4 linked regions of the Homo sapiens genome follow. The protein of the gene in region 1 interacts with the protein of each later gene in a pairwise test. Each region holds a gene or a part of one and is shown on either strand. Other genes may lie near its edges.

Evidence for each region.
Region 2: the proteins of PIAS2 (region 1) and HNRNPCL1 interact in binary tests that used the Homo sapiens proteins (3 or more experiments, as listed by UniProt).
Region 3: the proteins of PIAS2 (region 1) and KIFC3 interact in binary tests that used the Homo sapiens proteins (3 or more experiments, as listed by UniProt).
Region 4: the proteins of PIAS2 (region 1) and MX2 interact in binary tests that used the Homo sapiens proteins (3 or more experiments, as listed by UniProt).

The regions. Positions count from the first base shown.
Region 1 is NC_000018.10:46,885,560-46,894,832, forward strand, and holds part of PIAS2 (E3 SUMO-protein ligase PIAS2), read right to left. Parts: exon of another isoform or gene 9,252-9,273; intron 7,973-9,251; exon of another isoform or gene 7,872-7,972; intron 5,496-7,871; coding exon 5,021-5,495; intron 1-5,020. UniProt on the Homo sapiens protein: Functions as an E3-type small ubiquitin-like modifier (SUMO) ligase, stabilizing the interaction between UBE2I and the substrate, and as a SUMO-tethering factor.
Region 2 is NC_000001.11:12,845,965-12,854,832, forward strand, and holds HNRNPCL1 (heterogeneous nuclear ribonucleoprotein C-like 1), read right to left. Parts: upstream 2,757-8,868; 5' UTR 2,717-2,756; intron 2,507-2,716; 5' UTR 2,326-2,506; coding exon 1,444-2,325; 3' UTR 1,413-1,443; downstream 1-1,412. UniProt on the Homo sapiens protein: May play a role in nucleosome assembly by neutralizing basic proteins such as A and B core hnRNPs.
Region 3 is NC_000016.10:57,757,545-57,764,491, forward strand, and holds the end of KIFC3 (kinesin-like protein KIFC3), read right to left. Parts: intron 6,704-6,947; coding exon 6,599-6,703; intron 4,727-6,598; coding exon 4,596-4,726; intron 3,993-4,595; coding exon 3,869-3,992; exon of another isoform or gene 3,771-3,868; intron 3,628-3,770; coding exon 3,498-3,627; intron 3,412-3,497; coding exon 3,182-3,411; intron 2,873-3,181; coding exon 2,738-2,872; intron 2,293-2,737; coding exon 2,184-2,292; intron 1,610-2,183; coding exon 1,605-1,609; 3' UTR 1,581-1,604; intron 1,366-1,580; coding exon of another isoform or gene 1,340-1,365; 3' UTR 673-1,339; downstream 1-672. UniProt on the Homo sapiens protein: Minus-end microtubule-dependent motor protein. Involved in apically targeted transport. Required for zonula adherens maintenance.
Region 4 is NC_000021.9:41,404,754-41,409,893, forward strand, and holds the end of MX2 (interferon-induced GTP-binding protein Mx2), read left to right. Parts: intron 1-1,990; coding exon 1,991-2,245; intron 2,246-3,237; coding exon 3,238-3,480; 3' UTR 3,481-4,640; downstream 4,641-5,140.

The sequences.
Region 1 (9,273 bases):
GGTTTTTTGACATACAGCTACTGGTTTCAAAATCCCAAGAGGTTCTGGAATGACATTTTTGACCTCATGTCTGTTTTTCGCGCCACTGCACTCCAGCCTGGGTGACAGAGCGAGACTCCGTCTCAAAAAAAAAAAACAGTGATAGGTAGGATTCCTGAAAAACATTGTTTTTAGTTCAAGGGTAGAAAGTGTATAAGCCATGAGGATACGTGTATTTCTGGCATTCTAACTGAAGCTACGACCAAAATGCAGGGAGTTTAGTTACTCTTCTAAACAAAATATCTCTGGCATTATTTTATCTAAGCCAAATGAGATAGTTTTGAACACCAAATATGAAAAGTTTTATTTTAGTAAATTTATAAAGAGCATACTATTTAACTTTACTGAGGTTAATAAAAGAGAAACTCTGTGATGAACAGAGCAAAGTAAGAAAATTTCTAGTTCTATTTGTGAAAAAAGCAGGAAGGTAAGGAAAGAGAAAAGGACAAGGCCTCTCCCATGTCTCCCTCTTGGAGTACCACTGAGCAAAAGCCTACTACAGCATCTTCACTTAGTCCCCCCCAGTCTTCTGTCCATGTCTCTAAAACACATTCCACTGTAACCACTACCCTACAGACCCTCTTATCCTCTCTGTCCTGTGCTTAGCCACATTCCTGAGGGGCCTCATGAAGCAGGGCTACCCAAGCCATATCACTAGTCTGAATCTTTCTCAGAATAATAGAAAGTAATAAATTTGCTAGTCCTTCAACATAGATAAGGAAAAAAAATTTTTTTAAGTAATAAATTTATAATAACTGCTGGGACAGAATATATAAATGAACCACGACATTGTGCATGATACTGTCCAAATGCCATGATAAAGGAGGAATTAGAAAACAAATTAGGGAAATACGTTAACCAGATAAATCAACTCTTTAAAAACAAGGCTAAAGATGAAAGTAAAATCATAAAAGACAGACAACCGGGTAATAAGCATTTAAAATACTTGCTCTTGTTGGCCAGGTGCAGTGGATCACACCTGTAATCCCAGCACTTTGGGAGGCCAAGGCGGGTGGATCACCTCAGGTCAGAAGTTCAAGACCAGCCTGGCCAACGTAACGAAACCCCATCTCTACTAAAAATACAAAATTAGCCCGGTGTGGTGGCACATGCCTGTAGCCTCAGCTACTCGGGAGGCTGAGAGAGGAGAACTGCTTGAACCCGGGGAAGTGGAGGCCGCAGTGAGCCGAGACAGCGCCACCGCCCTCCATCCTGGGCGACAGAACAAGACTCTGTCCCCCCCCTCCAAAAAAAAACAAATAAAATCGAATAAAATAAAATACTTGCTCCTGTTACTAATTTTAAAAATAAAAATTTAAGCAAGATACAAGTTTTCATCTAAAAATCACAGAGATCTGTTTTCAATAGCACCCAGTAAAGGCAAAAAGTAATGAGATATGACAAGCATTCTCTCACTTTGCTTGTGGAATTTAAACTGGCACTAAAATAATTTGGCAATATGTTATCAAGAGTCTAAAACGTTCTTTTTACTTGATCCAATAATTCTACTCATAGGACTTTGTACAAACAAATAATAAAACATGAACAAACACTCAATCCTTATTTCAAAGTGAACGTAATAAAGAGATAAAATGCAATACTCCACTTGCTTGGATCACCAGTTTTGCTAAAACATAAATAAAGCAAAAAGCAAAAAATTGAAAAAAAAAAAAAAATAGCCACATTGCCTGCCACTAGTCAGGCCATACTAACCCCACTAACTAGCTCTACCCCTCAAAACCTTCCGATTTAACCAAGACAGGCTGCAGTACAATCCTGTAAGACAGGTAAAAAAGCACACTGATATGTTTAAGTGTTTTCACATGACTGAAAATAAAAAGGGTTTTCCCAAGAAAGAAAAGAAAGCAATCTTCCACATCAACTATGAAATGTTACTTCCCAATTTATTTCATAAAGAAATTCAAATATATTTGTAAATAACTTCATTAGGCAGTAAGAATTATAACACAGCAATGCAAAAATTTGTTAGTCACATTGTAAGCAATTGATGGGCATTAAATAAAAGCTAAAAAACTGCATGTCAAACTCCCTGTGCCACTTTAGAAATAAAATTAAATATAAAAGGTTTATTTCTTAGAAAATCAGTTTAAAAGCTACATTAAATGGAAAGTAAGTCCCTTTATAAAAATATGAAAAGTATCAAAATACAAAATCAGGATCAATAAATAAGATTTGTATCTATTCCCATTCACACGGAAGCAATCTGATTTCTACACCATAAGAATGCTTGAGTAAGTTCTAGCCAGAGCAACTAAGCAAGAAAAAGAAATAAAAGGCATACAAACAGAAAAGAAAGAAGTAAAATTATTCCTGTTCACAGATGGTAGGCTCTTATATACAGTAAACCTTAAAGATTTCACACAAAAAACCTGTTAGAATAAATGAATTCAGTAAAGTAGCAGAATACAAAGTCAACACGCAAAAATCAATTGCATTTTTATAAACTAATAATAAATATGATGAAAAGGAAATTATGTAGTTTTTACAATAGTATCAAAAAGAAAAAATATTTCAAAATTAACCACGAAAATGAAAACCTGTACAATAACAACTATAAAACATTGCTGAAAGATATTAAAGAACACATAAATAAATAGAAACACAGCTCATGTTCATGTACTGGAAGACTTAATTTTTTTTTTCCCCATCAGCCTATGTGGGAAAAGAAAGACTTAATATTGCTAAGATATCAATACTACCCAAACAAATTTACAGATTCACTACAATTCCTCTCAAAATCCCAATTTTTTTTTTTTATCAGAAATAGAAAAACTCATTCTAAAATTCACGTGGAATCTCAAGGGCCCCAAATAGCCAAAACAATCTTACAAAATAATTAAAGCTGGAGAATTCACTCTTCCTGATTCCAAGACATATTACATAGCTACGGTAATCAAAACTGTGATACTGGCATAAAGACAGACATCTAGACCAATGGAATAAATCAACAGTCACAACCTTTTTGGCCAGGACCAGTTTCATGGCAGACAATTTTCCCACAGGCCAGGGGAATGGTTTCTGGATGAAACTGTTCCACCTCAGATCATCAGGCATTAGATTCTCGTAAGGAGCATGCAATCTAGATCCCTTACATGCACAGTTCACAGTAGGGTTCCTGCACCTATGAGAATCTAATGCCACTGCTGATCTGACAGGAGGTGGAGCTCAGGCTGTAATGCTCGAATTCCTGCTGCTCACCTCCTGCTGCTCACCTCCCGCTGTGCGACCTGGTTTCTAACAGGCTGTGGACTGGTGCTAGTCCACGGCCTGAGGGTTGGAGACCTTGGAACAGAGAACCTGGAAATAAAACCTCACATACATGGTCAAATACTTTTTGACAAGGGTGCTAAGATCATTCAGTGAGGGAAAGGACAGGCTTTTCAACAAATGGTGGGGAAAAACTGGATATCCACAAACAAAAGAACAAAGCTGGACACTCACCTAATACCATATACGAAAATTAACTCAAAAGAGATCAGGCTTAAATGTAAGACCTAAAACTATAAAATTCTTAAAGGAAAACACAGGGCAAAACCTTCACAGCATGAAGTTTAGCAATGATTTCTTGGATATGACACCAAAGGCATAGGCAACAACAACAAAAAATAAACAAATTGGAATTTCATGAAAAAATGTTAAGTTGTACATCAAAAGACACTATCAACAGAGTAAAAAAGGCAAACCACAGAGTGGGAGAAAATATTTGCACATTCATATATCTGATAAGGGATTATATCCAGAATATACAGAGAACTCCTAAAACTCAACAACAATAAAACAAACCAATTCAAAAATGGGCAAGAGACTTGGCTATACATTTCTTGAAAGATACATAAATGGCCAAAAAGCACATGAAAATGCACAATATCACCATCATTACAGACATGCAAATCAAAGCTACAATAAGATACCACCTGACACCCATTATAATGGCCACTATAAAAAAAAAAGGAAAATAAAAGTGTTGTTAAGGATGTGGAGAAACTGGAACCCTTGTGCACTGTTGAAGGGAATGTAAAATGCAGCTGCCACGGAAAACAGTATGGTGATGCCTCAAAATACTAAAAACAGAATGACTATGTGATCCAGCAATTCCACTTGTGGGTATACAGCCAGAAGAATTGAAAAGCAGGGTCTCAAAGAGATACGTGTATACCCGTGTCCACAGAATTATTCGCAATAGCTAAAATGTGGGAGCAACCCAAGTGTCCAATGGATAAGCAAAATGTGGTATCCTATAACACAGAAATATAGAAGTAAAACCAGAAGAAACAGCTAAAATAATTAAGGTTGTTGCCTCTTGAAAGTGAGATTGAGGGATGAGTAGTGGAGTGAGCAAAAGATTACTATTTTTCTTTAAAAATGTATACTATTGTATTATTTAGCCTTTAAAAGGAAAGAAATTCTAACATAAACTACAGCATGCTAGAACCTTGAGGACATTACATTTAGTGAAATAAGCCAGTCACAAGACAAATACTGTATGATTCCAACGACATGAGGTACTTGGAATAGTCAAAATCATAGACAGTGGAAGTAGAATGGTAACTGCCAGGGGCTAGTGGGAGAGGAGGAGAGGAAGGCTATTGTTTAATGGGTACAGAGTTTCAGCTTCAGAAGATGAAAAGAGTTCTGGAGATGGATGGCAGTGATGGCTGCACAACATTACCAACATACTTAACACCACTCAACTGTACACTTTAAAATGATCAAGATGATACATTTTATATTATGTGTATTTTACAATAAAAGAATTGGAGAAGAAGAAAGATCAAATGATATGAAATAAAGCTTCTATTAGATTTCAGTCATGGTTGCCGAATTTTTATCCGTATATTCAAACATTCGGCATTGATGCCTCAATTTCACTATATTAACAGCACATCATTAATCAATAGTTGAAGGTCTCTCATTTCATTTACTATCTTGTTCAGAAGAAACTGAATTCTCAAACACTTACCTAAACTCGTGGGCTTGATGAGAACATCAAGGACATCATAAAAGGGCAGATTTTTTAACTGCACATCAGGATGGACAGGAGGAATTGGGGGAGATGGCTGCTGCATCTCAAATGTGGGCTTAGTATCTTGAAGCAGCACAGAACCAACAGGAGAGGATGGTGAGTGAGGTGTAACTGAAGTGGAAGGCAACGAGTGGATTCCAGCCACGGCCAAGTCAGGTTCTACAGGTGATGAGCCACCATCCAAACTGAAAACCGATGATTTGATTGTGGATAAATCAGAAAGTCCTTCAAGAGTTCGTGGATATCGGCGTCTATACAATTCTCGGATTTTAATCTGAACCGCAGGGCTGCAGCCGCTCTTCAATAAATGCAGCGCCCTCATCAGGAGGTCATGCTTGCGTCCACTTTTATTCCGTCCAGCAAAGCCTAGTAATACTTGTAGTTCAGAAACCCTAAAACTAGAAACCATATTCTAAAAGGAAAGAAAAAAAAACATAAGCCAAGTCACCCTCAAGCATACAAAAATCCTATCTAAAATATAATGTAAAATGTGATTTTTCCAGCATTCTATCAATTGGCATGTGCTAGTAACAGCATTTCACATACCACTTAGAATCATTACCATTCATAAGACAATCCCGTAAAAATTACATTCAAGTTACGGTGTTAATTATATTTTGTTGTACAAGATCTTAATTTTGGTAATCTATAGTCTATTGGTTTCTACTAACCACTTCATTATCTGATTATGCTCTAATGCAAACAGTTATTTGCTTTATGACTATAAAATCTATCACCAATGAATATACTCCTTTTCAAAACCAACCCCTCCCAATATACAATGTAATGTTTGTTACAGAATTATCGCCAATTAACCAAACAAAAAATCAGATTTTCACAATGTTAGATGTGTAACTTTTGATGCTGAGTAGTAAATCCATAAAAATCAAGTCAGAACTGTGATCCAAAATGCAATGAATTTTTTACCCCAATTCAAACATTAACAAACAAACAACATAATAAAGATATTTTAAAATATTAAAGCTAAAAAATCACATACATCTTATTTAGCAGTCAAACTTCTAAAACAACTGAAATTCCCAGCTGGGTATCCAAATGAGAAAAAGACCTTTGAAGAGCAAGGAAATGAGCAGTCATCAATCTTAAAGGGCAACATTTCCTCCACACTACTCTACTGGCTTGTGCTTGGGCGTAAAACAAAGGTTATAAGCAGTTGCAGCTTCACATCACACCTTCTATTTTTTCAGCAAAACTTAATGAATATTTTTAACCCCTTGCAGCCTCAGGAATCCACCTACTTAGTGATTTCCAGTCAATTCTGAACTCAGAGGCAAATCACACTTGGGTCAGATACCACACATGCATCATCTAGCAAGAAAGAGGAAGAACACCTGGAGCTGACCAAAGCCCTGTCAGAAACCTACCCAGGAGAACTACCTGTGGTTTGGTGTCCCATCCCATCCTCATCACTCCCCCAACCCAGCCCGTGCTACACACTCCACAGTCACTTGGGATTCCTTTTCAACCTGCTTGTCTCATCAGTATAGTGGAAATGTGGGGCAGTTGCTCTGTACTTTTTAAGTCTCAGGGACGGCCCAGAAGCAACTGTTTAAAACCCTATATGGTTTTTAAATACTTGTTGGTATAAATACTTGCTAGTTTACTAAAATGCAAACAGATTTAAATATGCCAAAGTAATCCATATACACTGTCATAACTGTACTTTGTGTACTATATATGTCTCTATATTTCATAATGTACAAGTGAGAGAATATTAAATTGTAATCCTGGCAAGCCATTTTATACTCTAATTCAGTGCTGTCCAACACAAATTAATAGAAGACACACATTAAACCTCCTAGTAGTCACATTAAAAAAACTAATTTAGGCCAGGAACAGTGGCTCACACCTATAATCCCAGTGCTTTTGGAGGCCAACACAAGAGGATCACTTGAGCCCAGGAGTTCGAGACCACACTGGACAACATACTAACACCCCGTCTCCACAAAAATTTAAAAATTAGCCAGCCATGGTGGTGTGTGTGCCTGTGGTCCAAGCCACTCAGGAGACTGAGGCGAGAGGATCACTTGAGCCCAGGAATTTGAGGCTACAGTGAACTGTGATCACACCACCATATTCCAGCCTAGGCAATATTAAGACTGTCTCAAAAATAATAATAATAATAATGATAATTTACATTAACATAGTTATTTAACCCAATATATCAAAACTATCTTTTCATCTCAACATGCAATCAATTTTTGTAATTTAAAAATAATCATTTTTTAAAGTGTCAGTGGGATTTTTTTTATACTAAGTCTTCAATATCTGGTGTATATTTTACACTTACAATACATCTAAATTTGGACTAACCACATTTCAAGTGCTTAAGAGCCACATGTGGCCACTAGCTACCACACTGTGGTAGCTCTAAATCATACTCTAATAGAACACATACCACAATGTGTGTTACCTCTACAGTGCAGACAACAAAGAAGGAAAACAAGAAAACTTTTGGCCTATCTCATAACAAACCAGTCACAGCTTACTCAACATCTCATGCATTAAACAGAAGACAACAGCTTCTTGGGAAGGGTTTACCCAAGCAAGTAATACGATGCATCTTTCCCTCAATCTTAGTAAATACTTCAATTGATTGTGGAACACTAATACTAAAAAAGGCAATCACACAGATAAAACATAACTGATTTTTTCTAACTCAGAATTCACTACTTTGCTTCACTCCTTATACTTATTGTCAGATATTCTTCATTTTAAGGGAAGCTATTTTACAGAAATGACAAAACAAAGCACAAAGTCATCCTACCTAAGCTTGACTCTCAGAGGAATTTCTAGGAGGTCTCATATCTCATATTTCCAGTGATAACATTATTTGGCAAAGGATGTTAATGCAACTGGCTCTATGGGCTGTTGTAAATAGACAAACAAAAAGTAAGAAAGAGATAAGAGCTTAGACTATGAATGCGGAATCACAGAATTCTGAACAGCAGATGGGACAGTCTTTGCATTACAAAATGCTGCAAAGATAAAGTATTGCTGGACACATAGCCAAAGGTAATTAAGTCAACAGGGCCCTGTGAAAAACTTCAAGCCAGCAATCAGCAGTTGTGGTTCAAGCCCAAGCACCAAGACTTTGGACCCTGGGAAAGTCATTTCATCCCTCTGGTCATCAATTTCTATTTTAAAATAACAAACACCCCCCAAAAAAATCCCTCTCCTTGGCCAGGCACAGTGGCTCACGCTTATAATCTCAGCACTCTGGGAGGCAAGGCGGGTGGATCATTTGAGGTCAGGAGTTCAAGACCAGCCTGACCAACATGGTGAAACCCCGTCTCTACTAAAATTACAAAAATTAGCCAGGCTTGGTGGTACACACCTGTAGTCCCTGCTACTCGGGAGGCTGAGGCAGGAGAATTTCTTCAACCCAGGAGGTGGAAGTTGCAGTGAGCCAAGACTGAGCCACTGCACTCCAACCTGGGCGACAGAGTGAGACCCCATCTCAAAAAGCAAAAATCAAAAATCCCTTTCCTTTATTTAGCACTTACTGATAAAATAATCTCAAAGCAGCTTACTAAGTAAAATTCTACAAATATGTTGTTTGGCAAATCTTACCAGATCCCACTTCCTCTAGGAGTAATACCTATTTTTTCTTAACTTAGTCTTTCACCAAGTTTCAGGCCCTTCCCCCACAGTGAGTGGGTGTGGTGAGTAGAGAGGGTCACCAGAGCCCACATGGGGGTTAAGGTTAGCCTGCTATGAACACTACCAAGAATGGATTTCAGTTGTTTTTCTCCACCAACCTCTGATGTTGGTATCTTTAGTCTAATTTTTTCCAAGCGGTTTTTCCACTCCACTGCGCTAACTCTCAAAGGCTCCCAAGTCAGCCCACTTCAGTTAAAACTGTTATTCCTACAGACGAATTTCCCTACAGAGAAATGTGTTGGCATAATTAATTGTGTAAAAAGATACGTAATCTAAATTCTAAACAAAAACTAACATAAATTAAGACCAGAGTTTTAAGTCAACCTTGTTCCTTTATCAAATGAAAATAAACACAAAATTATTAAAAATTTTAAAGCTGGGATATTATATAATTGAAACACTACATACAAAGATGAAGGCAAGCTGAAGGTGCTACCTCATTAGGTAGAAAATACCTCATTAGGCTGGGCGCGGTGGCTCATACCTGTAATCCCAGCACTTTGGGA
Region 2 (8,868 bases), on another chromosome or scaffold:
CTGAGACTCTTCAAGTACTGATGAAGGCTTCACCCAGTGACAGTGAGAAGGACACTGATTTGATTCTGATCGTGAAGTTTTGCTGGTTGTCTTGCAAGGAAAATATTTTTGCCTGTCATGTTGTCATCTAAAGTCAATGATTGTAACCTCTGTATTGTCCCTTCCAATGGAAAAAACAAAAACAAAAAAGCTCAACTCTATTAGAGCCTTGCCAGGATAAAACAAAAGAAAATTAAAAAAAAAACAACTGATAGGAGGAGTCCCATCCCCTTCTTTCAACCTTTCTTATAAAAGCATTCCAACTTGCAACAAAAGACAAAATTGACAAATGGGATCTAATTAAACTAAAGAGCTTCTGCACAGCAAAAGAAACTACCATCAGAGTGAACAGGCAACCTACAAAATGGGAGAAAATTTTCACAACCTACTCATCTGACAAAGGGCTAATATCCAGAATCTACAATGAACTCAAACAAATTTACAAGAAAAAAACAAACAACCCCATCAAAAAGTGGGCAAAGGACATGAACAGACACTTCTTAAAAGAAGACATTTATGCAGCCAAAAAACACATGAAAAAATGCTCATCATCACTGGCCATCAGAGAAATGCAAATCAAAACCACAATGAGATACCATCTCACACCAGTTAGAATGGCAATCATTAAAAAGTCAGGAAACAACAGGTGCTGAAGAGGATGTGGAGAAATAGGAACACTTTTACACTGTTGGTGGGACTGTAAACTAGTTCAACCATTGTGGAAGTCAGTGTGGCGATTCCTCAGGGATCTAGAACTGGAAATACCATTTGACCCAGCCATCCCATTACTGGGTATATACCCAAAGGACTATAAATCATGCTGCTATAAAGACACATGCACATGTATGTTTATTGCGGCATTATTGACAATAGGAAAGACTTGGAACCAACCCAAATGTCCAACAATGATAGACTGGATTAAGAAAATGTGGCACATATACACCATGGAATACTATGCAGCCATAAAAAATGATGAGTTCATGTCCTTTGTAGGGACATGGATGAAATTGGAAAACATCATTCTCAGTAAACTAAATAACAAATAAACAAAACTAAACTAAACTAACAAATAAATAAACTAAATAAACAAAATAAGAAATTATTTTGGAGACAGTTGATAAAAACCATACATCCTTTTTACTGTTAAGTCATAAAGAGGTGTCAAAATTAAAAGGAAAAATTACAGGGTAAGACTTAGGACAACTACTAGGGGTGTCAAGGGAAGTGAAAATGGGACTAGGCACAGGGCAATATGAATTAATGAACATGGGAAGGACAAAGATGGGGAGAACAGTAAGCATGTGCTGAAGATACTAAGGGAGAGGATCTGGTGAAAAATTTGTTGTTAGACAAGCTCCTAGGTAAAGAAACAATGGGATAAGATTTCTCAACCCCACTATGTGCTTAAGAGTCATCCTGGCCATTGGTGCTGTCTCTGTCATCCTCTCCTTCCTCAGCCTCTTTTTCATCATCCTTGATCAACTCCAGCTGGTCATCCCCCTGATCTTCATTAACATCATCATCCAGTGGGTCCCCCTCCTCAGCAGAGTCTTCTGCACCCCCCTCAGACTCCATCTTCACATGAGTCTCATCTTTCTTCATGGAGCTACTGCTCTGCTCCTCTTCTGACTTAGCATTTTTCACCTCTACCTCTTGTTTGCTCTGTTCCTTTTCAATTTTTTCCAGGTTTTCCAGGAGAGAATCCACTTTCTGTTTTATCTGGGTCAACTCCTGCTTAATGGCCTGAAGGTCATCACCTTTCAACTTTCCAGACTTGGAAGATCCCCGCTTTCCACTCTTAGAATTGAAGCCACTTTTGCCCCTTCGTGAGGTGTTTCCTGATAGACGTTGACGTTTCGAGGGCACTACAGCCAGAGCAATGGGAGGAGGAGGAGGTACACGTGCTGGGAAACTGTACATTCCATCATAATAATCCCGTTGAAAGCCATAGTCCAAGTCAAAAGAGGAGCCGTACATCTCCGCTGCTGATCGTTTCACACCTGCGTTTCCTCGGTTCACTTTTGGCTCCGCAGCCAGGTTAATATCTACAACCTGGCTAGCAATCATTCTGCCATCCTCTCCTGCTACAGCAGCCCGGGCATTTTTCTCCTTATCATATTGAACGAAGGCAAAGCCCTTATGAACAGAGCAGCCCGCAATTTTGCCATACTTGGAAAAGATCGCCTCCACATCCGATTTCTTGACAACAAGAGTGTTGAGATTCCCAATGAACACACGGGAGTTCATGGAGTGAGGATCCATCTTGTTGGTAACGTTGCTGGCCATTGTGTTGGATGATAAGGTTTCTCAAAAAGCCAAAAACAGGAGGCGGGAGGGAGAAGAGATTCGATTCTAAGTCTCCTACTGCCGGGTTCTACGGGGAGAAACTGACTGCGGCTCGAGGCCAGAAATGCAGCCAAAACAGCTCAGTCTTCGTCTCTTCACAAAATGGCTCCCAACAAGAATTCTGAAATGATGTAAAGAAAAGCACAACAACATTTTTGAAATAAAGACAAAATTGCATTTAGAAAAAAAATCAAAGCTTCAAAGTGTTCATATGAAAAAAAGAAAAAAAGACAGGATATAGTTCTGTGCCGTCGTAGGCTGCACTGTCACCGTTCTAGACCGGCTGACTGTAGGTCAGATGGGAGTGTCCTTCCAGAAATTAGTGACTTACCAGATCTGGTTGTAGTTTAGACCTCTGGTTGTAGTTGTAGCTCAGACCTCAGGAAGAGCCAAGCAGGAACTCCAGGCTTGAAGACTTTGAGTCTGTCCTGTGGGTCTTTAGAAGCTTTTATTGACCTTTCTAATCACAACTCCCACCCACGCCCCTCCACATATCCGCTGCTAGCTTCCAATCAAAAAGCGATATCTGATTGCATTTCTGAAGCTCCACTCAGTTAATCCTGATTGGGTTTTTGGCTGTCCGAAGACTAATGGATTGAACCAGGTATCCATTCATATCACATATGCATATTCATTTCATGAATTAAGAAATTGACAGCGTTAGGGATAGAGTGGAAGTCAAGAATTCATTCACTCAAGGCCAGATGAGGTGGCTCACACCTGTAATCCCAGCACTTTAGGAGGCCAAGGTAGGTGGATCACCTGATGTCAGGAGTTCAAGACCCGCCTGGCCCACATGGTGAAACCCTGTCTCTACAAAAATAGAAAAGTTAGCCAGGCACGATGGTGGCTGCCTGTAGTCCAGCTACTCATGTGGCTGAGGTGGGAGAATCCCTTGAACCCTGGAGGCTGAGTTTGCAGTGAGCCAAGATTACACCATTGCCCTCCTGACTGGGTGACGGAGGGAGATTTTGTCAAAAAAAAAATGCATTCATTCATGAAATCCACAAACACTGATGGAATTTTACTGCTATGTCGCCTTCAGGTCCTGAGTGTGAGGCAGGGAAGGGGTTGATCTGTTCCGGACATTAGACAGAAAAATAAAACCTGAAAGTAGTGTTGTGGGGAGATCTTTGGCCACATCAAAATTATAAAAATGCTTTCTAGTTAAAACAACTTTATAAAAACGGAGTCATCCCTACAAAATAAGAATAAAGATCTCCATGTATGGAATGGTCTTGTGGGTTTTATATCACCTAAGGTAGCAGTTTCTTCACTCGTGCTGGTGGAAGAGAGGTGCCACTCAGGGCGTGAGTGGTCTCAGTGCTTAGGTTAAGGCTTCTTTGGAAGAAATTGAAACGATACCTATAAACTTTATAAATTTAATCAGTGAAGAAGGGAGGGGGAGAAACAAAAATAAACCAAGCTTGCAGCGCATTCAGCATTCACCATGAGGTCAGCTTGCTCTCTGACCTTCTTCCTCATGGTTGCTGGCAGCCTACTGTCCCCAAATCATTTAGACCTTAGATTACAGTTCCCCTTAACTGCCCTGCAGACAACAATTTAAGCCTTGTAAAACATTAACTTTTTCATTTGAGATATTCTTACGTTCTGCATGTCAGTGAAAGTACTGATGCCAGCTGATCTGAAGGGCCCTACAAGGCACCAACGCACCAAAGAATGCAGTTTTGACATCCTGATGACTTCATCCCTCTTAACTCTATATCAACTTTCCAGCCCCTTGCTATCCAGGATCCACTGGAAACCCTCAGTGGATCTCCTCCTTGGGGAGATGAATTTGAGGATCTCCTCCTAGCTTCTCATTTAGCCACCCTGTGATCATTAAACTCTCTGCTGCAAACTCTGCTGTCTCAAAATATTGGTAAGCTACTGTGCAGCAGGCATAGGAATCTGATGGTCCTGTAATAAAATCATGTCAAAATTGCAAAAGGAAGTGAGGGTAGAGGATGGGCTTGGTTGAGCTTGGTGTTTTAATGGGATCCTGGGAGTGAACCAAGACTTGGTAAACATGTTGGGGGTTACTGAGGGGGTGGAGGAGGAATCTATCCAATATTTCACTGATGCCCCTTTGGTTTTGATTATTAGGACCAAGGATGAGCCTTTCAAAACAATTTATATAATCCTCCTTATTTTTCCTTTCAAAACCTTCATCTTCTATTTTTCTCCCAAAATAATCTCACATCCATTCCCAATGCTTTGCTCATTTCAGGATAAACATCTTTTTTCTTTTTTTCTTACACAGTCTCCTTCTCTGTTAAGTAGACCATATATTTTGTTGCCACAAAATGTCATTTGGACTGCTTCAAACACAGGAATTTTCTGAATTTCATGTGAAACCCCTCCTCAGAAATATTTTCCTTACTCCAGGAGATTTGCTGATATATCAGGTTGGGGTGTAAACTGGATATGGCAGCCCTGGTACCACCAACTCTGTACCAAAGTCTACATTGATCTGGATCTCAGCTTCTCCATTTTTTATTTAAGGGTATTATAGAAAATAATTTACCAGAGAGTTATTTGAAGTTCCATCAATATGGAGCCATCAGAAATGTTCTCTATCCAGGTTCGGTGGCTCGTGCCTGTAATCCTATCACTTTGGGAGGCCAAGGCCGGAGGATAACCTGAGGTTGGGTGTTGGAGACCAGCCTGACCAACACAGAGAAACCATGTCTCTACTAAAAATACAAAATTAGCTGGCTGTAGTGGCACATGCCTGTAATCCCTGCTACTTGGGAGGCTGAGACAGTAGAATCACTTGAACCCGGGAGGTGGAGGTTGCAGTGGGCTGAGATTGTGCCATTGCACTCCAGCCTGAGCCACAAGAGTCTGGGACACCACCTAGATTAGACCCAGTTACACTAATGTTTCCTATGCATAGAGATAAGTTACCAGTAATGAAATCAATAATAGTCATAGGCCACCCATTTGCATCTATAGCTTCTTCTCAGTGCCGAGTCATTTAATCATAAATATTACCCAACCGTGTGTGAGAGCAGGTTCTACTATTAGTTGTGATCCTTCCTATTCATCTAAATGACTCCATAGGCAGCAATTGCTTTGGTTAGTGATAGTGGCTAAATTTTGAAGAGGAGACCTTAGAAAGTGTTTGCTTTGACTGGTGAAAGTACGTAACAAAATAAAATGTAGGCTTGATCATTTTGTGTTAGTACAAAACAAAACCAAGTCTCAGTCAATGGAAGGAGATCGAATGGAGTTTTGTTCCATTTTCTTAAAACAGCTGTCTACCATGTGATGATGTCTGCTTGTAAGAAAGGCTTTTTTCCTTGGTTATCCTTAATTTTAAGTCACCTGGTATGGTCTCATCCAATGCTGCTCATGGGCAGATTTCCCTTAGGGCCATTTTAAAAGACACAATCTCCAAATGGTAGGGCATGAAGGTCCAATCATCATTAAAAGCCTCCTTCACCTACTGGAAATAGTCTTTGAAAGGTCTCGTGGTACTGAGTCATATTGTTACTGAATGATGAGCTCACTCTCCTAAGTGCATAGAACCCAATACTACACCACCATGGTTTGAGAAAAGCAAAAAAGGCTGGGCACGGTGGCTCATGCCTATAATACCAGCACTTTAGGAGGCCGAGGGAGTCAGATCACAAGGTCAGGGGTTTGAGACCGCCTGGACAACATGGGAAAACCCTGTCTCTACTAAAAATACACAAATTAGCTGGGTGTGGTGATCCATGCCTGTAATCCCAGCTACTCTGGAGGCTGAGTCAGAAGAATGGCATGATCCTGGGAGGCAGAGGTTGCAGTGAGCTGAGATTGCACCTCTGCAGTCCAGCCTGGGTGACAGGGCAAGACTCCATTTTGGGAAAAAATAAAAAATTATTAGGAGTTAACTGGACCGGGCACAATGGCTCATGCCTGTAATCCCAGCACTTTAGGAGGCCGAGGCGGGCAGATCACAAGGTCAGGAGTTCCAGACCAGGATGACCAATATGGTGAAACTCCCTCTCTACTAAAAATACAAAAATTAGTCAGGCATCGTGGTGCACGCCTGTAATCCCATCTACTGTGGAGGCTGAGGCAGGAATCACTTGAACCCGGAAGGCCAAGTTTGCAGTGAGCTGAGATCACGCAACTGCACTCCAGCCTGGGCAACAGAGCAAGACTCTGTCTCAAAGAAAAAAATAAAAATAAAAATAAAAATAAAAAATAGTTAACTGACAGGGAGACAGGAGACAAGTTCCAAGCCTGTCTCCCCAATCTGGGGATAGTGGAGCAAGCTCACATGGCCTTTCCAACTGGTTTCAGGTGATGCCAATTCAAACAGTCAGCCAGGCTGTGTTAACAGTTAAGAGGTTAAACCTTTTTCCCATCGGACATGCCTGAGCAATTTAGGCTTTGCAACTTAAGCAATGGTTAATCTGTTGGAGTTGAACCCCTGGTTACACAGTCAGAGCTAAAATGTGCAGGGGATACATGAGGTTCTATTATCAAAGGCATAGGTTCTCCAGTAAATACTTTATGATCGGTGCTTCTGATTGTAGTTGGTGAAAAAAAATACCTTATGATGGGTCTGGCTGTATTTTCCCATAGGGGTGGTAAAAATTATATTAAAGTAAGCCAGTCTTACTGGGCGTGGTGGCTCACACCTGTAATCTCAGCACTTTGGGAGGCTGAGGCTGGCGGAACACTTGAAGCCAGGAGTTGACCAGCCTGGGCAACATGGTGAAACCCCATTATCTACTAAAAATACAAAAATTAGCTGGGTGTGGTGGCATGCCTGTAATCCCAGCTACTTGGGAGGCTGAGGCATGAGAATTACTTGAACCCAGGAGGCAGAGGTTGCAGTGAGCCGAGATAGCACCACTGTACTCCAGCTTGGGCATCAGAGACTCTGTGTCAAGTTTCTCCAGAGGTGCACCAGAAAGGAAACACATTTTATAATCATTTATTCACTATGACTATGGCATCAGCCTTTCTAAAAAGGTAAGCTACAACCCATCCTGAAAATGGACACACAATCACAAAAATTGTAGCCTTTTTACATGGCTCACTGTCATCATTGGTCCATGACATTCCCTTTTCTTGCCGCTATATGTGTGTATGTCTACATATTCATATCTATATCTACACCTATTTTTTATTACCATGATTCACTTCCACTCCCCTTTCCATAGATAGCCACTCTACTCTTTGACATAGCCTTGAATTTGCATGTGACCTCTTAGAAAATAAGTATATAGAAAGTATATGGAATATATACTTGAAATTTGTATGTGTATTTATATTAATCCACATATATGCTATAGTGTAGGGTGCTACAGAAGAGGGCCTGACAATTAATTGTCCAGTCCTAGACACTTTGGAGAGTGAATGGACATGCTGTTATAATTAATTATTTTTTTTTGGAGATGGAGTCTCACTCCGTCGCCAGGCTGGAGAGCAATAGTTCCATCTTGGTTCACTGCAAACTCTGCCTCCTGGATTCAAGTGATTCTCCTGCCTCAGCCTACCGAGTACCTGGGATTACAGGTGTCCACCACCATGCCCAGCTATTTTTTGTATTTTAATAGAGAGATAGTTTTGCCACTTTGGTGAGGCTGGTCTCGAACTCCTGACCTCAGGTGATCCGCCCACCTCACCTCAGGTGATCCGCCCACCTCAGCCTCCCAAAGTGCTGGGATTACAGACGTGAGCCACTCCACCGGGCCTTGTTATAATTAAGATTTTCAGAACAACAGGGGTGTATGAAGGCTTATAATCACCTTTACCATAGACCTTGGTCTCTCACCTAAGTTTGTAACTAATATATTTTTCAAATATAATAACAATAAAAATATCCTTGCTTGCCCTATGTCAAATCCAGCTCGAAGTACTTAAATAGATTAACTTATAACACTCTGTGAAGTCAATATTGCTATTATCCCATTTTATATGTGAATGAGCTAAGGCACAGAGAGGTTAAGTAAGTTGGGTAAGACCACACAGCCATTGGCCACTGAGCCAGTTTTTTTTTTCTGGGATGGAGTCTCGTGCTGTCGCCCAGGCTGGAGTGCAGTGGCGCGATCTCGGCTCACTGCAAGCTCTGCCTCCCGGGTTCACTCCATTCTCCTGCCTCAGCCTCCCGAGTAGCTGGGACTACAGGTGCCTGCCACCATGTCTGGCTAATTTTTGTATTTTTAGTAGAGATGGGGATTCACCGTGTTAGCCAGGATGGTACTGAGCCAGTTTTGAACCTAAATTAAACAGTCTGGATCTGCTGGATCTGGAGTCTTTACTACTAACCAAAATACCTACGTGCCTTCAAATCCTAAGTTGCTGAGGGTCTTACCTTGTTTCATATCTCACTAGGAAGGGAGCTAATGTTTATCCATTACATCTGATGTTTAATGCAAGTTTTCAACATACAACATCTCATTTTCCAAAATATGCTATGATAAATTTAATTTGATTTTTCTTCAATTCCTTTCTGCATTTTGTAGGAACCTTGCTTTT
Region 3 (6,947 bases), on another chromosome or scaffold:
GACACCCCCAGGATGCCTCCAGGGGCAGGACTAGAAGGGCACCTGCCCCTTCCTCTGAGCAGGGCTCCGATCAGCTGTCACTCCCTGCTGGAGTCCCCAGCACTGGCTGGCGGGAAAGGGCTCCCTGCTCCGTGGGCACTGCGACAGGTGGGCCCCCTCCTGCTCCCAAGGCAGGGACCAGGTACAGCCCCGCCCCGGGGTGGTCAGGGTCCTCGGCACTGGAGGAAGGTGGCGTGGACCTCTGGCCAGTTCACTGAAGAGGGAAAAGGCCAGGGCAAAGAGTGGGCAGTGGGTGGTGCCCAGCAGTAACCTGGAAGCCCAGCATGGTTTGGGCAAGGCTTTGATAGCCTTTGAAGCTCTCTCCAGCCTTAGTTTCCTTCCCATCAGTAACATGGAGGAATGCCCCTGTTGGGAGGTCAGTTATCGTGGGCACATGGTAGGTACCGCATGAGGCGACTGTGACCACAAACAACAGAGAAAGTGACCCAGGGTGGGACAGCGCAGGCTCCCCCCAGTTGTTTGTTAAGGACGCATGTCCCTAACTGACCTAGAGGACAGATCCCAGAGGGCTGTGGGGTGACCAGCCAGCGGGGGAGTCCACAAGACCTGCCAGTGCCCCGTCCCCCTAATCAGACCAAGAGGGGCTCACAGACCAACTTTTTCAGACCATACTTGTGTAAAAAGGCTTCTTTTATTTTAATAAGTAAAAATGGCTAAGCTTCCAAAAGTTCTTAAATAGGATTTCAGAGGGAAGAAAATTCGAGAGACCAGCGAGCCAGGCAGGTGAGCGAGCAGCAGAATCCCCCACCCGCTGGCTGCCTCTGCCAGCCATAAACACAGCACGGCCCCGTGGCGGGAGGCCATGCGCCTCCGCACACCCCCCAGCTGCGGGAACCCTCCTTGAAGGAGAGGGGCGGGGAGGGCTGCCATTGGTGCCACCAACCCACCCCAGTCCCCATGGTTCTTGGGTCTGCCCAGAGGCTCCTCGCCCACCCCCTAAGGAGGGGGCTGGCCAGCTCTGCAAGCTGAGGAGAGGGGCCGAGAAAGCCTGGGTGAGAGGCCCACCCTCCTCCACACTCCCGCCCTCCTCACGGGGCCCAGTTCGCTGATGGCCCAGGCCTGCCAGGAAGAGCAGCCACCCCCGCCTTTCCGCCCATGCAATTTGCACTCAGAGCCACAGCCGAGAGACACCGTTTCCTTCTGAACATGTTTCTCATCTTTGAGGGGAGACGGGGCAGAAGAAGAGCCTCCACTCTCGCCTCTACCTCCGGGGGTCCTGGCGCTGCAGCAGGGACAGGCCAGTGAGGGCCCAGCTTCAGGCCCAGCGGGGTCACATCCGTCACACAGGCAGTGGCCGCGACTTCCCTGCAGGGGCATGAGATCATCAGCCTCTTGTCCACTTGCCCACCGGCAGCCCACAGCAGTTGCCACCGAGAGCAGGAGGGAACCCAGCAAAAGCACATAGACAAGCGACAGCAGGGGCTAGACCCAGCTCTGAACAGCAGAACGTCCCAGCGCAGCCCTGCAACCCACTGCGGGCAGGCAGGCGGGCAGCCCTGGGCCACAGGCCCCACACTCACCTAGAGACTCTGCAGCCCCAGCCGTCAGGCTGAAATCAAAGTGACAGGCGTCTCACTGGTGGGCTTGCCTTGGGCCAGTACCCCACAAGACCCTGCTGCTGCTACCCCTTTGGACTCAAGGATGGGCCAGGCCCTCCCATGATCTGGGCTAAACAGGGGCTGGAGCCCTGGGTCCCGGTCCTGTGGCGGGGCTCACTCCTCACCTAGGAGGTAGGCAAGCCCGGCCCTTTCTACCCCCGGGGCAGCTGAGGCACAGGGAGGGGGCTGCAGGGGCTGCTCTGGAGGGGGCTTACTGCACAGGCTCAGCCAGCCCATGCTCAGAGAGCAGGGTCCCAGGGTAGAGTCAGCACCCCCGGCTGAGAGGCTGGGGTCTCCTTACACTGCCCCCTTCCCACAGACCTTCCATTTCCCACCTGCAGAACGGACACAGCACTGTCTGCCCTGACTACTGCCTGGGGGCAGGGGAGGTTGTAAAACAGGTTCTGGAGAAGGTGTAAGAACTTTTTAAAAAGGAAAGAAAAGAGAAAGCCCATCCAGGTAAGGGCAGCCTGGTGACTATTACCCTGGGGAGACTCCCCACCCACACTGCCACTCCAGGCTCACCCGAGGGCTGCAGCTTCCTCCGGATGGATCCAGGGCGGCTACTGGTCCCAGAGCTGGGGGCTGAGTGGGCCCGTGCCGAGGGCTGTGGCGTCTGACAAGCCGGCTCCCACTGTGAGCAGGGAAGGGCGGATGGGCGGGGGCCACGGCTGCCCTGGCTCCCCACCCTGCTGTGCTTCTCTCTACTCCCCTGCCCTGCCTCCTAACACCCAGTTTCCTCATCTGCAAAATGGGCATGATGTTTGTGCCCCAGCCTCAGTTATGGCAAGAATTAAATGAGATAATTCATGTAAAGAAGTCAACTAGTTACCACTGAGCATCTACTATGTGCCACCCCCACGGCCAGCTCGTCACCCCACAGGAACCTCCGAGGCCAAGAAGAAATACCTGTACTGAAGAGGCTGCTGGCTGTGGGTTCCAGCCGTAGCTCCACCCAACTCCGGCAGCTTCCCTGCCCCCACTGCTTCAGGACGTCCCCGCCCAGCTCCCTGCTCCTGCCATGACCCAAAGTCTCTGACCCAGGGCCACCTGAGCCAGGCCTGTGACAGTCCCCGTACCTCTAGATGCTCCTGGCTTGACCAGGACCCAAGCTCTGCCCTGCGTAGCCCAGGCCCCAGCTCCACAGAGCGCACCCTCTCAGCAAACTTGAGGGAATAGAGCGTCTCGCTAGTGTTCTTCTCCACGGGGGACACCTAGGGGACACGAGAGCTCACTGCCCACCCGGGCCAGCTGGAGGGGCAACAGGGTCACGAGAGGGAGCTCACAGCTGGGGCCGTCAGAAGGCTTCCTGGAGAGGCCTGAGGGATGGGGTGGGAGGGCAGGCAACATGGCAGAGGTGCTGTGGTCAAAGGTGGAGAGGAGGGACTGGGAGTTACACAGGGTGTGTGTGGCCAGGTCTAGGGGCGGGGAGGTCCATTTGCACAGCCTGGGGTGACTGGGTCTCACTGCTAGCGTAGCCCCTACATGCTAGGGACTGGCCCGCCCTAACCCAAGGTCCTCACCTGTACCACCATGAGGGTCTTGCTGTCACCACTAAGCGAATCCTGCAGCAGGTAGGTGAGCTTGGAGTTGCGGAAGGGCACGTGGCCCTGGCGGGAGCGCAGGGCAGCAATGACGTCCCCCAGAGCCGACAGCGACTTGTTGATGTGCTGCGCCTCCCGCAGGCGGCTGCCCTCGGCCCCCGACTTGCCCACGCGCTCCGAGCCAGCCAAGTCCACCAGGTTCAGCTTCCCTGCAGGGAAGGCACCCACCAGATCAGGCCTGCCCTGCCCCTTGGGGTTGTGGGGATCCTCAGGCCAGGCTGCCTGCCACTCTCACCCGTGGTGCGGAGGCCTGTGCTGCAGTCCACGCCTCGCACCGTCACGATGAGCAGCGCGTGCGAGCGGGAGCTGTGCTCGTTCAGGTTGGTGAACTCGGTCGTGCGATTAGTGTGGCCAAACTCAAACACCTGGGGGATTGGGAGGAGGGCAGAGGCACAGCGTTGAGAATGGGGTCCTCAGAGTCACCTGGCCCCAAGCACCCATGAGGAGTGGCACCACCCTCCGCAGTTTAGATGAGGAAACTGAGGCTCAGAGAGGCGTGCGGACTTGCCCAAGGGTGCGTGCTTAGGACACAGCAGAGCCTACATTCAAACCCAGTTGTGTCCTCTAGAGCAGTGTGGCTGTGGTCAGGGGCTCCCGCCTCCACACCTTGTTGATGTCGTCCACGCTCTGCACTTGGAACTCAGTCAGCCCTGGTACATACAGCTGCCCACTGCCGTCTGGGCACAGCCGGATCTCCAGTTTTTCCTGAGGCTCTTTCCCTAGCAGGTCCCTGGAGGGGCAGGTGAGACAGTCACCCCCTCCTCCCATTTCCAGCTGCTGTTTGCACTGCACCCAGCCCCCCAGCCAGGAATGTTCCCCCAACCCAGGAAGCCTTCTCCAGCCATCAGCTGAGTGCATCTCTCCTCCTCCAGCTCCTCCACCGCATTCAGCTGAAGACGTGGAGATCTCACTCCACAATACAATGAGCCCCTGTTGGCAGGGCCCCTAGCTGCCCACTCTCACCCATGGCCACCTGGTGTAGCCCACAGGTAGGGGCAAGGATTGCCTGGGTCTCAGAGAGAGCCCCTCCTCCCCCCAGAACCATCCAACCCACTGGGCTGAGTCAGGACTTGCAGCCAGGTCCCTTGACGGCCTCATCTGGTCCCTACACTCCCTTCACCTTGACGGCCTCATCTGGTCCCTACACTCCCTTCAGGAAGACCCCACTTCCTATCCCCCATTGCTCCAGCACCACCCCTGAGGATCCCAAAGCTGCCCCTGAGGCCTGCTCCCCACATACTGGGGGTCCCACCTGAGGACCTCGTTCCAGCACCACCCCGGAGGACCCCAAAGCTGCCCCTGAGGCCTGCTCCGCACACCCTGGGGCTCCCACCTGAGGACCTCATTGTAGATCTCCGCAGCGCTGACGGTGATGGTGTACTCCCAGTCAGACGCCTTCTCCTGCACCTCGGAGAAGAGCAGCTGCAGGGCCCGCTGGTTGATACCTGGGTTCTCAGCGGTCCCCTGGGGACAGAAGGAAAGGCCCCAGTAAGCCAGGCCTGTCCCCAAAGACGCTCGTGTGGTGTCTGTCCCCAAAGCCCCTTGACTACCCCTCACAAGCAAGCCTCCTTGCCCAAAGCTCTTACCTACCTGCCACTGTCCCCCAAAATGCCCTCCACCAGCTGCGGGCAACTGCACCTCTATTTCCCCACCATTAAAATGGCATCGCCCTGCCAGGACTACCCTGAGACTTATAGTGCAGCACTGGGATGAGGGGCCTGGCCCAGACCCCACACAGGGCAGCTGAGGGCCAGATGCATGCCTGGCCCTGTGGGGCCACCTGGGAGGGGCACTGGAAATGAATGACCCCGCCACTGCCCAGAAAGGCGCTCAGTCTCAGGGAGGCTGAGACCTGGGCTCTGTGGGTGGTAGAGAGGAGGCACAAGGAGGAGCGGGCCAGTGTCCTGGGGAAGGACGGGTGGGCCGGCCTTTCTAGAAGGAAACCTGGAGTCCCCACCCGGGACCTCGAGGCCCTGGGAGCCTGGCCCTCACCCCTCTTCTGATAGCACCTCTCACTCACTCTCTATTCCGGCCACAGGGGCCTCCTGGCTGGGCCTCAGGTGCCCCTGGCATGCTCTGGCCTCTTGGCCTCAGCCCTGCAGCTCCCTCTGCCCCGGGTACTCCTCTGACCGCCCCTTGGCCGGCTCCGTCATCTCCCTCAGGGAGGCTGCTCCCAAGATGCCCCCTCAGGGAGGCTGCTCCTTCGCCCAGCACCCCCAAATGCCCTGTCCCTCCCCCTAGTCAGTTCCGCATTCCTGGCTTTATTTTTCTCCCTGGCCTGACAGGACACTTGCTGATTTGTGTAGACCCTGCTGTCTCCCCACAGCCAGGTTGGCCCTGTGGGGAGGGCCCTCTGTGGGGGCAGGGACTGTTTGGGTCACAGCTGTGCCTGGCACGATGCCTGATACACCTTATGCATCAGCAGATACACTTGAGGATGAACGCTCTGATGTTCCTGGTGGTCACCTCAACACTAAGCAATCCCAAAGCAGAGCGGGGAGCCCAGAGGATGCCGCACACATCCCCTTCCTCCTCCTGCCTGGCCTGGCCTGCCCCCACTAACTAGTCTCACCAGTCCCAGAATCGAGGGAACAGCAGAGTCCAGATGGGAAATAAGAGGGCCGCCCAGCAGGCCTGGCTAGCCCCTTCCCCTGTCCAGACGCCACACCACCTGGCCTCCTCCTGACCTAGGGAATCAATCCCACAGCACCCCTCAGAGCCAGGGCTAGCTTTCCACTGCCCTCTGCCCACAGTCAAGATCCTTCCTAGTCTCAACGCCCCTCTCCCTGGCCTGCCACCTGCTCCACCACACCTGGGAGGGTGCCGGTGACGAGCAGGGAGAGGAAGCCTTGGCCTGGCCCCAGGGACCACCGGCAAGAGCTGGGCTCCCCACAACAGCCTTCATATGCCAGTCTTGCCCTGGGATCTCCTTGAGGACTGAGACCCGCCACTCATCCCAGATCCCCCAGGCCCGGCCCAAGGCAGCGGTAAAGCAGGAGTGTGCAGTGCACACTCAAGGTGAAATGCAGCCCTGGTCCTGAGAGAGGTCGGTGGCCTGCCCCAGACTCTGTCCCCAAGCCGAGATCCCTGTGATGATAGTCCCCCCTTGCCTCTCTCCCAGTCCTGCTGGGCCCATTGTGGGTGCCCTTGGGCAAGGGGGCCCCCTCTTAAGGCCTGGTGCCTCAGGGCTAACACAGATAACTACAGCCTCTGCTCCTGGGTTGTGAGGACCAAATGAGGCAAAACACACACTGCACAATACCCCAAGACCAATGAGGGAGCCCGCATTCCCTTCATGCTTCACTGTGAACCCCCACCCCATTGGGCAGCACCCACCTCCATCGTGTACGTCTTGCCGGCGCCCGTCTGGCCGTACGCAAAGATGCAGACATTGAAGCCATCAATGCAAGAGGTGACCAGGGCCTGCACCTCCTGGAACACCTGGGAGGGTGGTGGGAGGGAGGCTGGTGGGGGGGCTTCCAGGGCCGCTGGGACCACCAGCTACAAGTCCAGCCACCTCCCCAACCATGCTGTCCTTCAGCAACACCACATCACGTGTTACTGCAGTCACTCAGCTCACAATGATTCGTGACTCATGAGTCATACATTAGACAGTAGTGGGCAACCGGGCCGCCCAAAGACTGCAGGGAAGACAGGCCAGTGCCTGCTGCCCTTCCCCCAGCTC
Region 4 (5,140 bases), on another chromosome or scaffold:
GCACATGTGAAATCACAGCTTCTGTTTGGGAACAAAAGAAAGGCAGTTAACTTTCCCTTTAGTATAGTAAGTTTGGGGTCCCAAGAATCTATTTTTCTTTCACAGTTGTCACATATACTCAAAAAAAAAAAAAAAAAAGAAAAAGAAAAAAAAAAGAGAAAGAACAAACAAACCAGCACCTGTGAAACTTCACCTCTGAAACTCACTCTCTCACTCTCAAGCCACTGCTTCTGCCTTCAGTTTTAAAAAGTCTATTTGAAGCTCAAAAGCCTAGGCCAGGTGTGGTGGCTCACGCCTGTAATCCTAGCACTTTGGGAGGCCGAGGCGGGCAGATCCCTTAAGGTCAGGAGTTCGAGACCAGCCTGGCCAACCCGGTGAAACCCTTGTCTCTACTAAAAATACAAAAATTAGCCAGAAATCACTTGAACCTGGGAGGCGGAGGTTGCAGTCAGTCGAGATTGTGCCACTGCACTGCAGCCTGGGTAACAAAGAGAGACTCCATCTCAAAAAGAAAAAAAAAAAAGAAAAAGAAACTCAAAGCCAGGACATGACAGTCTTAGTTCAAGCTTCTATCACAAAGTCCCACAGACTGGATGTGTCTTATTAACAATAAAAATTTGTTTCTCATGGTTCTGGAGGCTGGGAGCCTGAGATCAGTGTGTCGGCATGGTCAGGTGGCAGTGAGGGCTCTCTTTCAGGTTGCGGATGGCCACCACCTTCTTGTGTATCCTCACACGGTGGAAAGAGCGCTCTCTGGGGTTGCTTTATAAGGGCCTCAGTCACATTCATGAGGCTCTACCCTCATGACTAATTGCCTCCCACTTCCCAATACCATTACCTTCCTACTTTGGTTTCAACATGTAAATTGGGGGGCAGGGGACACAAATGTTCAGTCCATGGCAGTGACCCTGTGACCCCCCTTCTCTGCTACATCACCTCTTTCTTTCCTTTTTTTTTTTTTTTTTTTTTGAGATGGAGTCTCACTCTGTCACCCAGGCTGAAGTGCAATGGCGCCATCTCGGCTCACTGCAACATCTGCCTCCTAGGTTCAAGTGATTCTCCTGCCTCAGCCTCCCAAGTAGCTGGGATTACAAGCACCTGCCACCACACCTGGCTAATTTGTGTATTTTTAGTGAGATGGGGGTTCGTCATGTTGGCCAAGCTGGTCTCAAACTCCTGACCTCAGGTGACCCACCTGCCTCAGCCTCCCAAAGTGCTGGGATTACAGGAATGAGCCATCGCACCCGGCCTTTTTGAGACGGAGTTTCGCTCTTGTCGTCCAGACTGGAGTGCAATGGCATGATAGCTCACTGCAACCTCTGCCTCCCAGGTTCAAGCCATTCTCCTGCCTCAGCCTCCCAAGTAGCTGGGATTGCAGGCGTGTGCCACCACGCCCAGCTAATTTTGTATTTTTAGTAGAGATGAGGTTTCACGATGTTGGCCAGGTTGGTCTCGAGCTCCTGACCTCAAGTGATCCACCCTCCTTGGCCTCCCAAAGTGCTGGGATTATAGGCATGAGCCACCATGCCCAGCCAACCTCTTTCTTCCTTGACTGCATGGGTGATGTAGGAGTCCTGGGATTCCTGGGAAACAGGTATATCACACTATTATCCCAGTGTTCGTCAGCACTGGAACCATTCTAGCAGAAGTAGCACCCCAGGAATGACTGACACCGTCCCAACAGCATGGACTAAGCCTGTTCCTGTTGAAGGAGCAGAAAGCTGGTGGTGTAGGAGGGACTGGGGATGGCCAGAGAGGAAGAAAGGGCAGGAGAGAAGGTATGTCGCAAGTGGGGAGTGAGGAAACCGGGTTCATAAGGACAGAAAGGGCGAAGTGGGACTTTCTAAAAATCATCATTTCAAGTCTCAGGACTTCTTTGACTATGGATTCGTTTTATTTCTGAGTTCAACATAATAGTACTTCCAAATTTGTTTAAGCCAACAGGAAAGAAGAAAAAGAAGTAATGTGTTTGTCTTTTTTATCTAACCAGAGCACGATTGAAGACATAAAAGTGAAACACACAGCAAAGGCAGAAAACATGATCCAACTTCAGTTCAGAATGGAGCAGATGGTTTTTTGTCAAGATCAGATTTACAGTGTTGTTCTGAAGAAAGTCCGAGAAGAGATTTTTAACCCTCTGGGGACGCCTTCACAGAATATGAAGTTGAACTCTCATTTTCCCAGTAATGAGTCTTCGGTTTCCTCCTTTACTGAAATAGGCATCCACCTGAATGCCTACTTCTTGGTGAGTTCCCGGCGGGGCAGGAGCCGTGCTCTCTGAAATTTGCAGAGCTGAGTAGGGGCTATGCTAACCTAGAGAGGCTTTGCTGAGGGAAGGAGGGAGGGACCACTACAATGTATTAAGCCCTTCTGTATTATGATAAACTACTTATATATTTTCTCATTTATAATTTTACATGAACCCTATGAAGGCACTTTTAATTAATTTGCCCACAATCAATTTTTAAAGTGGTAGAGCGTGTACTCAAAATTAATTCTGACCCCAAAATTCCTTATATTTCTTATGCGGTCCATGAATTACAAAATTACTATGATCAGAATACAGCAAAATACAACAAACGTCAACGATTGTGACTATAAACTAGCTTTCCTTGGTGTTCAGAAGGCACTAACATGCCACACTTGCCAGCCCCACAAGATAGGAATGAAATTTCCTTTCCCTAGATTTTGTGACCCAGTGAACTTTTTGGCCTCTGACTGTCTATCCAATATGCAAGTATCACTGTTCCCAGGAAGAAAAAATAGCTTTTAAACTGCAAAGACACCCACCTCCCGAAGCCCTTTCTCAATCAGAATAGAGTGGTTTCCCAGCCATGGGCACCTGGCTGCCAGGCATACTGGCTATGCCTATGAAGAAGGAATGAGGGGAGGATTCGAAACGGCCCTGGTGCATACCCAGAAGGGAGCCAGGGGAGTCCTGGGCTGGGGGAGTTTCTCCAGCAGGGAGGAGCTGTGGGGATGCCCAGAGGTGATATGGGCTTGCTAGCCTACCAGGGGGCTTCTTAGTGCTAGAGGGGATGCCTGGAAGTAAAGAGGGGTCAGCGCAAATAGAACCTTCACGGGGCTTGATGCTGACCACCGGAGTGGAGGTGGGCGAGACCACCAGGGCTTCGCCAGGCAACCATGTGCGCATCCAGGAACTCCATGCCTTCTCTCTGCAACCACAGGCCTTGGGCTGAGACCACTCCAGCAAACCCTTCTTTCTCCCTCTTCCAGGAAACCAGCAAACGTCTCGCCAACCAGATCCCATTTATAATTCAGTATTTTATGCTCCGAGAGAATGGTGACTCCTTGCAGAAAGCCATGATGCAGATACTACAGGAAAAAAATCGCTATTCCTGGCTGCTTCAAGAGCAGAGTGAGACCGCTACCAAGAGAAGAATCCTTAAGGAGAGAATTTACCGGCTCACTCAGGCGCGACACGCACTCTGTCAATTCTCCAGCAAAGAGATCCACTGAAGGGCGGCGATGCCTGTGGTTGTTTTCTTGTGCGTACTCATTCATTCTAAGGGGAGTCGGTGCAGGATGCCGCTTCTGCTTTGGGGCCAAACTCTTCTGTCACTATCAGTGTCCATCTCTACTGTACTCCCTCAGCATCAGAGCATGCATCAGGGGTCCACACAGGCTCAGCTCTCTCCACCACCCAGCTCTTCCCTGACCTTCACGAAGGGATGGCTCTCCAGTCCTTGGGTCCCGTAGCACACAGTTACAGTGTCCTAAGATACTGCTATCATTCTTCGCTAATTTGTATTTGTATTCCCTTCCCCCTACAAGATTATGAGACCCCAGAGGGGGAAGGTCTGGGTCAAATTCTTCTTTTGTATGTCCAGTCTCCTGCACAGCACCTGCAGCATTGTAACTGCTTAATAAATGACATCTCACTGAACGAATGAGTGCTGTGTAAGTGATGGAGATACCTGAGGCTATTGCTCAAGCCCAGGCCTTGGACATTTAGTGACTGTTAGCCGGTCCCTTTCAGATCCAGTGGCCATGCCCCCTGCTTCCCATGGTTCACTGTCATTGTGTTTCCCAGCCTCTCCACTCCCCCGCCAGAAAGGAGCCTGAGTGATTCTCTTTTCTTCTTGTTTCCCTGATTATGATGAGCTTCCATTGTTCTGTTAAGTCTTGAAGAGGAATTTAATAAAGCAAAGAAACTTTTTAAAAACGTAGCCAGGTTCAGTGACTCATACCTGTAATCCCAGTGACTCTGGAGACTGAAGCAGAAGGATCACTTGAGCCCAGGAGTTCAAGACCAGACTGGGCAACACAGGGAGACCCTGTCTCTAAAAAAATTTGTTTGTAAGTAGCCAGACATGGTGGTGCACACCTGTAGTCCCAGCCACTCAGGTGGCTGGAGCAGGAGGATCCCTTGAGCCCAGGATTTTGAGGCTGCAGTGAGCCATGACTGCACCATGTACTACAGCCTGGGTGACAGAGTGAGAGTGAGACTCTGTCTCTGAATACACACACACACACACACACACATACACAGAGAGAGAGAGAGAGAACTTCACACCAGTGATCATCATTATGGGTAATTTTCTTTTCTTCTTCATGTTTTCCTGTATGTTTCAAATGATGAACATATAGATTCCTTAATAAAAAGGCAATAGAATAAATATCATTGCTGATTTGTTTTAAAACCCAAGTTTGAGATGGAAAGAGTGCCTCAAAAACATTCAGCTTTGTTCAGGGGTACAGACGAGAAAGATTACGTGAATTTCTTTCTTCATTTGCTGTAAAAGATGTTGGAAAAGAAAGTTCAAGTCAAAAATCACAGCTTGACCAGCATCCCCAAGAGCTCTCTTGCAGAGGTCTCTTTGATTTGTGTTCAAATGCTAGTGTATTAGTCTGCTATAGCTGCCATAACAAATATCACATGCTGGGTGGCTTAAGCTACAGAAATTTATTTCCTCCCACCTCCAGAGGCTGGAAGTGTCTGAGATCAAAGTGTTGCTAGTTTGGTTTCTCCTGAGGTTTCTCTCCTTGGCTTGCAGACTGCCACCTTCTCACCAGGCCTATGCTTGGCCTCTCTCTTTTCTCTTACAAGGATCCCAGTCCTCTTGAATCAGGTCCCCACCCTTAGGGCTTCATTTAAGCTTGATCACCTCTTTAAAGA